Linked DNA regions of Homo sapiens: region 1 is linked to region 2. The links come from fine-mapping of genetic effects on gene expression. A gene starts in region 2. The other region holds a variant in brackets. All regions are shown on one strand. Distances are between the middles of the regions.

Region 1 (5,379 bases), 27 kb before region 2:
GAAAGCTTGTCTCTACTAAAAAATACAAAAATTAGCCAGGTGTGGTGGTGCATGCCTGTAATCCCAGCTACTTGGGAGGCTGAGGCAGGACAATCGCTTGAACTCGGGAGGCGGAGGTTGCAGTGAGCCAAGATCACGCCATTGCACTTCAGCCTGGGTGACAGAACGAGACTCCGTCTCAACAATTAATAAATAAATAAAAAAGATTTAGTTAAAGTGCTTATTTTATCAATGAAGAATTACCAATCTTGGAAACAACCCAATGTCCATTGACAGATGAATGAGTAAACAAAATGTAGTAAGGCACGGTGGCACAAGCCTGTATACCCAGCTACTTGGGAGGCTGAGGTGGGAGAATCGCTTGAGCCCAGAAGTTTGAGGTCAGCCTAGGCAACACAGCAAGACTCTATCTCTAAACAAAACAAAACACCCCAAAAAACTTATAAACAAAAGGTATTATATAGAAATAACAAAATGCTATTCGGTTCTAAAAAGGAATGAAATTCTGATTCAGGCTACAATATAGATGAATCCTGAACATATGCTAAGTGAAATAAGCAGTCACAGGACAAATATTGAATGATTCTTCTTCTATGACGTACCTAGAATAGTCAAATTCATAGACAGAAAGCAGAATGGTGGCTGCCAGAAGCTGGGAGAAGAGGGGAGTGGACTTGGTGTTTAATGGGTATGGAGTTTTGGTTTTGTAAGACTAAAAAGTTCCAGATAGTGGTGATGGTTGCATAAAAATGTGAATGTACTTAATGCCACAGAACTGTACACTTAAAAATGGCTAAAATGATAAATTTTATGATACATATCCTTTACCACAATAAGAAACAAATAAAAATAATTACCAATCAAAAAACAAAAAACGTAAAAATAAAAAAATAAAATCATAACCTTCTGATCATGTAAAATGATAGACCGTATACATTTTGTGCTGCTGTGAGGAGGATCTCTTGGGGGCCTCCAACATCTTCCTTTTATTTATTTATTTTTTGAGATGGACTCTTGCTCTGTCACCCAGGCTGGAGTGCAACGGCATGATGTCAGCTCACTGTAACTTCCACCTCCCAGGTTCAAGCAATTCTCCTGCCTCAGCCTCCCGAGTAGGTGGGATTACAGGCACACACCATCACACCAGGGTAGATTTTATACTTTTACTAGGGATGGGTTTTCACCACATTGGCCAGGCTGGTCTCAAACTCCTGACCTCAGGTGATCTGCCTGTCTTGGCCTCCCAAAGTGCTGGGATTACAGGCGTGAGCCACTGCGCCTGGCCCAACATCTTCCTTTTCTTTTTTTTTTTTTAAATTTGAGACGGAGTTTCGCTCTTGTTGCCCAGGCTGGAGTGCAATGGCGCAATCTTGGCTCACCCACTGCAACCTCTGCCTCCAGGGTTCAAGCAATTCTCCTACCTCACCCTCCCGAGTAGCTGGGATTATAGGCATGCGCCACCACACCCAGCTAATTTTTTGTATTTTTAGTAGAGATGGGGTTTCTCCATGTTGATCGGGATGGTCTCGAACTCCCAACCTCAGATGATCCACCTGCCTCGGCCTCCCAAAGTGCTGGGATTACAGGCATGAGCCACCACACCCGGCCCAACATCTTCCTTTTGAACTTACTTTATTTATCAGTAATTAATACAATTCTTGAAGTACTAAAAACAAAACACTGACATGTACCTGTTTTTAACTGCATCACTTACCACTTTAGAAGGCAGTTTCTGAAAAAGTTCGCTAATGAGACGTCCTGATGGATTTGTAGCTACAACTATGGCTTCAAGAAGCTGCTCCAGGATCTCCTTCAAGTAAGCTGGAGAAGACTGGTAATGTGGAGAAAAAAGTACTTTCTAAGAGAAATAATAAAATGCTGAATATTACATAGCTTCTAAAATTGTAGAGCTAATTCAAAACAGCAACTTTTTTTTTTTTTTTTGAGATGGAGAGGCTGGAGTACAGTGGCACAATTTCAGCTCACTGCAACCTCCACCTCCTGGGTTTAAGTAATTCTCCTGCCTCAGCCTCCCGAGTAGCTGGGATTATAGGCATGCGCCACCAGGCCCAGCTAAATTTTATTTTTTTAGTAGAGACGGGGTTTCACTATGTTGGCCAGGCTGGTCTCGAACTCCTCACCTCATGTCTGCCCACTTCGGCCTCTCAAAGTGCTGGGATTACAGGCATGAGCCACTGTGCCTGGCCAAAGAAAGCAACTTCTAAGCAGTACTTATTTTAACTCCAAATTTCAAGAATACCCCATAATGTTCTGATGCTGGACATAGGCATTGTATCCCTAGAACAACCTATATGAACCTAATGAGGTGCCTTATATTATTTTTGCAATGAAATCCCTTGTACTAGGTCCTTCTACTGAACCTTTTTCTACAGTAAATATTGCAATGGCAAAGTTTAAGTGCTACAAATGTGAAATGAGCAACTGAGCAGGAGAAAGCATGTCCCATAATAGTTCATTTCTATATCTGCTGTTCACATCTATTGAAGTCTTACAGGACAATGACTACTTACAGGACAATGACTACTTACATAGAGTTGGGACTACATACTTTTAACCACGGGGTGCTCTACCAAGTCTAACTGAATTCAAATTAAGTCAAAACTAAACAGCGATTAAGTACATCAATGTACACCATTTCTGTTCTTTAGACCCACTGGTTTATACCTAGCTTAGTCACTGTTTCAACATAGGAAGTATATGCCCCAAAGAGTACTTGACCAGGGAGGGTCCAAGTCTGAAGCAAGTTTCTAGAATAAGCAATGGAATGTCTCAGTCAAGGATTAAATTATGCTTCTAGTCCAAATCATTTTTTGTACATATAAAATAAAGAGTAATTTTTTTTCT[G/C]GTTTAAATCATAAAAGTACTGGTATTGTGTCCTAATCCAACAGAAGCTCTTTTTATTTAGTATAGTCTCAATTTTAAGGTGCAACACTTTTTTTTCCTCCCCACTCTGTTGCCCAGGTTGGAGTGAAGTGGTGTGACCATGGCTCACTGCAGCCTCTAACTCCAGGGCTCAAGCAATCCTCCCACATCAGTTTTTCAAGTAGCTGGGACCACAGATGTGTACCACCATGCTTGGCTAATTTTTTTACTTTTTGTAGACATGGGCGTCTCACTACATTGCCCAGGCTGGTCTCAAACACTTGGGCTCAAGTGATCCTCCAGTCTCAGCTTCCTAAAGTGTTGGGATTGCAGGCGTGAGCCACCGCACCAGACCCAAGAAAATCATCCTTGATTTAAAAATTAGAAACCTGAAAATTTCTTCTCCCTCCATGAGAATCATTGAGTTATAAAGAGTCTTGGGGTCTGGCATGGTGGCTCATGCCTGTAATCCCAAGCACTTTGGGAAGGTGAAGTGGGAGGATCACCTGAGGTCAAGAGTTCGAGACCAGTCTGGCCAACATGGTGAAACCTCACTTATACTAAAAATACAAAAATTAGCTGGTGTGGTGACAGGCATCTGCAATCGCAGCTACTCAGGAGGCTGAGGCAGAAGAATCGTTTGAACCCAAGAGGTGGAGGTTGCAGTGAGCTGTGATCGTGCCATTGCACTCCAGCCTGGGCCAAAGAGCAAGACACTGTCTCAAAAAAACAAAATTTGAAAGAGGCTTGGGAGGTATAAATGTGAATGTACAAGACCCTCCCAATTTCTCATCAATTATGCGTTACAGAAGTACGGGCAAGTCCTAAATACAGGCATTTTAATCTTTTGACTAGAGCCCTGAAGGCCTACACTAAGGGTGGGGCCTCTGCAAGCAGTGTTCTACCGAAGAAAGCATGGGCTGCTTCTCCTGTATTCATATTAGAGAGTAAAATTCCAGGAAATTCCTATTTTTAGCCTTCTATTTAGTTCCAATCACTTAACTACTTAAAGAAACTGACAAGCTGCTGAGGAACTATATACATATATTTACATATCATATATAAAATATAAAATTTTATACATATAAAATATATGAACTACATGTATATGTGTGTATATATATTTTGTGTATATCTATCTATCTATCTATCTATATTTTTTTTAGACAGAGTCTCATTCTAAGACCCAGGCTAGAGTACAGTGGCATGATCTCAGCTCATTGCAACCTCTGCCTCCCGGGTTCAAGCGATTCTCCTGCCTCAGCCTCCCGAGTAGCAGGGATTACAGGTGCCCACCACCATGCCCAGCTAATTTTTGTATTTTTAGTAGAAATGGGGTTTCACCATGTTGGCCAGGCTGGTCTCAAACTCCTGACCTCAGGTGATCTGCCTGCCTTGGCCTCCCAAAGTGCTGGGATTACAGGGGTGAGCCACAGCACCTGACTAGGAACTGTATTTTGAGACTCTAAGAAGTAATTGTATTTTTGAGAAATTCACCCATCACTGCTTCTCTGTATTCCAGCAAAAGGCCTATGTAGATAAGTTACAGAAGAAAGGGGAATATTCTGCAATGTGCTTCTCACAATTTAGCTGTAGAAAAGAGTTGTGATCCCCTCTACTATTCTTTTTTCTCTTTTCAAACATGTCTTTTTATTTTCTGTCTTTCATTTTTTTTTGAGATGGAGTCTCATTCTGTCGCCCAGTCTGGAGTACAGTGGCGCCATCTCGGCTCACTGCACCCTCCACCTCCTGGGTTCAAGCGATTATCCTGCCTCAGCCTCCAGAGTAGCTGGGATTACAGGCATGTGCCACCTGCCTAGCTAATTTTTGTATTTTTGGTAGAGACAGGGTTTTACCATGTTGGTCAGGCTGTTCTTGAACTCCTAACCTCAAGTGATCCTCCCGCCTTGGCCTCCCAAAGTGCTGGGATTACAGGTGTGAGCCACCTCGCCTGGCCATGAAGCATGTGTCTTTATTTAGTAAATATTTATCAGCACCTACATGTCAGGTATAGTGCAGATATGAGGAATAAATGAACAAAAAGATACCTGCTTAGGAGCTATCATTCTACTTGGGGAAAGAGAGAAAAACATGTAAACTAGTATGTTATTTCACATATAGTGACATTATAAAAACTGAAGACAACCCTGTGATGACAGGGTGGGGTAGGGGCTGAAAAGGAGGAAGGCGGAGCAAACAATGGAGATAGGGTGGTCAGGAAAGTCCTGTCTCAGTAGACACCATTTTAGATGGTGTTAGAACAATAAAAAAGAGCCAGTCACGGGAAAAGTCAAAGGAAGCACTTTCTATGCAGAAGAACAACTGCAAAATTCCAGAGGCAGAAACACACCTGGGAGGTTCTAGGAACAGTAACTATTCTAACCTACAGAAATATTCCTCACTAAGGTGATTACATTCCAACTTCTAATCACAACACTGCCTTTCCTTACATGATGTCTCAATGTAGCAATACTGGACTAATCCTTGATAATATCA
Region 2 (5,379 bases):
ACACGGTGAAACCCCGTCTCCACTAAAAATACAAAAAAAATTGGCTGGGCTTGGTGGCACGCACCTGTAATCCCAGCTACTTGGGAGACTGAGGCAGGAGAATCGCTTGAACCCGGGAGGCGGAGGTTGCAGTGAGCCGAGATGGCACCACTGCACTCCACCCTGGACGTCAGAGCAAGACTCTGTCTCAAAAAAATAATAAAAAAAAAAATTAGCTGGCTGAGGCAGTGCATGCCTGTAAACCCAGTTACTTGGGAGGCTGAAGCATGAGAATTGCTTGAACCCAGGAGGCAGAGGTTGCAGCAAGCCGAGATCATACCACTGCACTCCAGTCTGGGTGACAGAGCGAGACCGTCTCAAGAAAAAAAAAAAAACAACATAAAGTGAAATCACTTCTGCATGTTCCCCAGGCACAGGAACAGCATATTCATTTTTGTAGACCTGTCTTACAGGATAGTATTTGGTATAGGTTATGTGCTCAGTTTATCTTTTAATAAATGTATTAAAAGTGCACTTAGGGCCAGGCACAGTGGCTCATGCCTGTAATCCCAGCAATTTAGGAGGCTGAGGTGGGCAGATCACCTGAGGTCAGGAGTTCAAGACCAGCCTGGCCAACACGGTGAAACCCCGTCTCTATCAAAAATACAAAAAATTATCTAGGCAAGGTGGTGGCATGCACCTGTAATCCCAGGCACTCGAGAGGGTGAGGCACGAGAATTGCTTGAACCAGAGAGGCAGAGATTGCAGTGAGCTGGGATTGCGCCACTGCACTCCAGGCTGGGGGACAGAGTAAGACTGTCTCCAAAAAAAACAAAAAAAAAGTGCACTTGAGACCTTCAAAAAAAAAAGTTTATTTGTATAGTTTAAAAGTCCTCAGCCAGGCACAGGGGCTCATATCTGTAGTCCCAGCACTTGGAGAGGCTGAGGCAGGATGACCGCTTGAGGCAGAGAGTTCAAGACCAGACTGGATAACATAGATTGATCTTTTCTCTACAAAAATTAAAATTAGCTGGGTGTGGTGCTGCACATCAGTAATCCCAGCTACTTGGGATGCTGAGGTGAGAGGACTGCTTGAGCCTAGGAGCACAAGGCTTCAGTGAGCCATGATCACTTTACTGAACTCCAGCCTGGGCAACAAAGTCAGACCTTGTCTCAAAAAAAAAAAAAAAAAAAAAAAAAAAATGCCTGTAAGCATCCCTTCAGCAATTTTGTCTTTCCATGAAGAGGAAAGACAGATTCCAGAGTTCAATGCCAAGTTTTAAAATGGCCTTGATTACAGTTACAAGTTCAAAAGTCTAACAATCAATAATTTATAGTGGACAGTTAAGAATACTTAATAATGTGCAACTGGGAGAATATCGACTTACTATAGACAAACAGTGTATTTCGACCGTTTATGAACTTTAGCCCTCTCCTATATTTCTAGTAATATTTAGCAATACAATACATGTTTAAAACAAAATCTTGGAAAACAGGACTCAAAGGAAAAAAAACACCTATAAACCTACTTCCAAGAAAAAAACCACTCTTAACGTTGTCATTCGGTTTTTGGTATTTATGCCTTAGTTACCTATTATTTTTTACCAAAATGTTAACAAACCACATATATTATTCTACAGCCTGTGTTTTAGTGAAGGTTCTTCCAAGTCAACATTCTTCCTCATGATGTTTGATGACTTGATAGTAATCTATCATATAGATACACCACAATTTACTTATCTTGGGAATTTTGGTAGGATATTAACATTTGAGGTATTTTGTACATTCCCAAAGCCAAAGAAAGCGGTCAAGGCCCTTCCATTCATCCACACATAAACTCTTTATTGTTTTAATTTGAAACACCTCTTCAAAACATATTTTCCAATCTTCCATTTTGGAGCTCAAAATCAAATATGGGCGACCTGTAAGTAATAAAGCAAAAATTATGCTACTCTTTTATGTGCATGAGTCCAATTTGCACTTTTTGGGGAAAAGCACATAGCCAAATGGAGAAAAAAATAATACCTAAAATTATTTGTCAAGAATCCTGTGTTGGAAAGTAAGTTAATTAAAACAATTCACCCCAACATACGCTTCTATAATTATTGTAAGAATTTCTATATCCACTATACCGTGTACTTATTTTTCAGGGCTTTTTCTATATTTTTGCAACTCTTTCTTCCCCTTTAAATTAAAACTTATTATAATAACAAAACTGTGCTTCCCCAAACCAAGAAATATACACAGTTCCCAAAATCCCGGATTCTTTGTGGTGTTGAGAAGCTGAAATATCTGGCCTCTACTATAAATACAAGTCCCATTGATTAAAATACCCGGAAAAAATACGGAAAGAAAATCACTAAGAGTTTGTGTCGAACCGTCAAGAAACCACAACAAAAAAAAGAGGCCCTGAGCAACGGAGGAAATGAAGGACTTTCCCGACCTGTCACTGGTATTGGGGACTGAGGGAAACGTTGACAGCTTTGAAGCTGCCCCGCGACGAGCGGGAAAGAGGAGCGCGGGGAGTTTCCGACCCGTAGTGCGCCTTTGTCCCTGCCGGCAGGTGCGACAAGGCTACTGGGCCCATCCGGAGGCCAGCCGCCGCGCCCCGCCCAACCCCGCGCGCCCGGCCCGACCCGCGCGTCCCCACGGCCGGGGCGGGGCTTCCGCCGCGGCTCCCGCCCGCCCGGGCCCACACAAAGGCCCGGCAGCTGACCAAGGGGGAGCGGCCCCACCCGCCCTGGGCCCGGCCTTACCCAGCCGCTCCGCCGCCTGCAGCCCCGGCCGCGGTCACCGACCGCCGCGCCCCGCCCCGTGGCCGCCACGGCTGCTGCTATTGCTCCTCCGGCCGCGGCCGCTGCCGTCGCTTCGGCACCCGCCGCCCTCACCTCCCTTACCCCTCCCGGTGCCGCCGCAAAACCAGTCCCGCGGCCGCCAAGCGATCCCTGCTCCGCGCGACACTGCGTGCCCGCGCACGCAGAGAGGCGGTGACGCACTTTACGGCGGCAGCGTAAGTGCGTGACGCTCGTCAGTGGCTTCAGTTCACACGTGGCGCCAGCGGAGGCAGGTTGATGTGTTTGTGCTTCCTTCTACAGCCAATATGAAAAGGCCTAGTAAGTGGGGTCGGGAGGCGGGCGTGGAGGGACCCACGTCTGGAAGTTGCTGCAGCCACCACGACGCTCTTCTACGGCTACGGCTTTGTCTCTGCTGGTATGGGGGTGGGAGCCTACGCGTAGGCCTTGGCCCTATTTCCTGGTAGAACCGAGAGTTGGAAGTCCCTACGGCGATCATGTTAACCGCGCGGGCTCATTCTGCGGAACGAAGCCGGGCAGAGGGTGGGGAAGACTAGGCTAGATTTTCGTAAGGAAGCAGCGTCTGAGCCAGGTTTGAGGCCCAATATTTTCTTTCCGTGGCCACGTGCAGACTGGCCCAGGTGAGAGCTGAGAATCGCCTCCCAGACTCAGTGTTCCTCTCCTGCCTTATGATTCGTGCTGTTTGACACGAAGTGGTTGTCGTTTTGTGTCTCATACGCTGTTGTGTATGATCCCATTCTAATATTGTGAGGGTAAGTGCAGGGAATTTTGACTCCATTCTGGATCTACTGAATTTAATTCTCTGGGATTTGAAAGTAGCACGTATGTTTGCATTAGGCATTTCGCATTAGACTTAACGTTAGGTTTGGTAGCCAATAACACAAGAAAAGGATATAACTCCATAGTGCGTTAACCCAGAACTAATCATTTGGGTTAACAGATTTGTGATGTGTTTCTTTGTAGAGTTAAAGAAAGCAAGTAAACGCATGACCTGCCATAAGCGGTATAAAATCCAAAAAAAGGTAAGTGTAGTGCTTGAGAGAGCTGTACCAAACACATTGCTAAACTGATTTTGCCCTGTTCCTTTGCGGGAAAGTCTGGGTTAATGTGATTTGGTTTTGGGAAATGGCATTGGATAGACTGACCATGGGCACAAGCTCTTAGGCATCAGGAGTGCAGCTGTGAGAAAGTGCAGTGATTTGGTGATAAGTCTCTAAATTTGTTCAGCATGTTAATCTCTGCATAGAGAGCCTTCTAGTTACAATTTCTTGCTGTTTTATACTTACATATGCATTACTTTGTAAGATTCCAATTAAAGCTCCATTTTCCTAGGACATTTTATAGGCATAACTAAATTGCAGCCAGATTGGTTTCTCACTTGAATTCTGCTTAAGTATAAAGATATTTTTGTAAGCAGACAAAATCTCTTTATTTTAATAGGTTCGAGAACATCATCGAAAATTAAGAAAGGAGGCTAAAAAGCGGGGTCACAAGAAGCCTAGGAAAGACCCAGGAGTTCCAAACAGTGCTCCCTTTAAGGAGGCTCTTCTTAGGGAAGCTGAGCTAAGGAAACAGAGGGTAAGTTATGTTAGCCAGAATTTTCATTGAGTGGTGTAGTGTGTTATGTGTGATATTTTTCAGAGTAAGGTAACAACACTAGTCACTGGTTCACCTATTTCCCTTATGGCTCTGACAGCTTGAAGAACTAAAACAGCAGCAGAAACTTGACAGGCAGAAGGAACTAGAAAAGAAAAGAAAACTTGAAACTAATCCTGATATTAAGCCATCAAATGTGGAACCTATGGAAAAGGTATGATTAGGTCTCTTTATGAATGAGAGATCAGGGGTTTTGATTTTGGTTTTTTTGCTTGGGCCTGAGTGCAGTGGCACAATCACAACTCACTGCAACCTGGACCACCCAGGCTCAAGCAGTCTTACCACCTCAGTCTCCAAGTAGCTGGGACTACAGAAGCACACCATCACGCCTGGCTAATTTTTTTTAGCAGACACGGGCTTTCACTATATTGCCAAGGCTGGTCTCAAGTGATCCACCCAACTCAGCCTCCCGAAGTTTCTGGTATTACAGGTGTGGGCTGTTGTGCCTGGCTGAGAGATGAGTTCTGATGCAGAAATAAAAGCACATCCACAGGCTGCTGAGCTTCTTGGGAGGAAGACAACTGAGTTCAGACTCCATCTTACCTATTTAACAACTGCAAGGGCTGCTACTCAGCTGTGGAAAATGGAGTTAGAGGTTACAGTTGCTCTACTTCTAATTTTGTGTTATTTCCCCCTTTATCCTCTAGGAGTTTGGGCTTTGCAAAACTGAGAACAAAGCCAAGTCGGGCAAACAGAATTCAAAGAAGCTGTACTGCCAAGAACTTAAAAAGGTATCTTAGCCTAGGTCAGTGTCTGACAGTAGTAATGAGGTTTAAAAGACTCAAGTCATTTTTTTTTTAACCTTTTAAGATGAAGGGTGCATGTGCAGGTTTGTTATATGGGTAAACTTGCGTCATAGGGGTTTGCTGTACAGATTATTTCATCACCCAGGTATTAAGCCTAGTACGACATTAGTTATCTTTCCTGATCC

The links. PIP is the estimated chance that this variant, and not a neighbour inherited with it, causes the effect.
Region 1: its variant is the best candidate, but not a certain one, in a credible set for the expression of GNL3 in whole blood (INTERVAL, PIP 0.77).

What each region holds. Positions count from the first base shown.
Region 1 is chr3:52,656,485-52,661,863 of GRCh38, forward strand. It overlaps PBRM1 (polybromo 1), which reads right to left. Exons shown (of 32, transcript NM_001405607.1): 6 at 1,715-1,831. Among named protein-coding and RNA genes, the nearest start is that of PBRM1, 27 kb to the right of the region's middle. The variant G/C (reference allele first, on the strand shown) is at 2,866.
Region 2 is chr3:52,683,014-52,688,392 of GRCh38, forward strand. GNL3 (G protein nucleolar 3) reads left to right here and starts at 3,019. Exons shown (of 15, transcript NM_014366.5): 1 at 3,019-3,092; 2 at 3,756-3,814; 3 at 4,233-4,370; 4 at 4,489-4,602; 5 at 5,096-5,179. The coding sequence starts at 3,080. PBRM1 (polybromo 1) reads right to left here and starts at 2,900. Exons shown (of 32, transcript NM_001405607.1): 1 at 2,736-2,900. RefSeq lists silencers at 2,487-2,636, 2,707-2,856 and enhancers at 2,494-3,182, 3,177-3,246.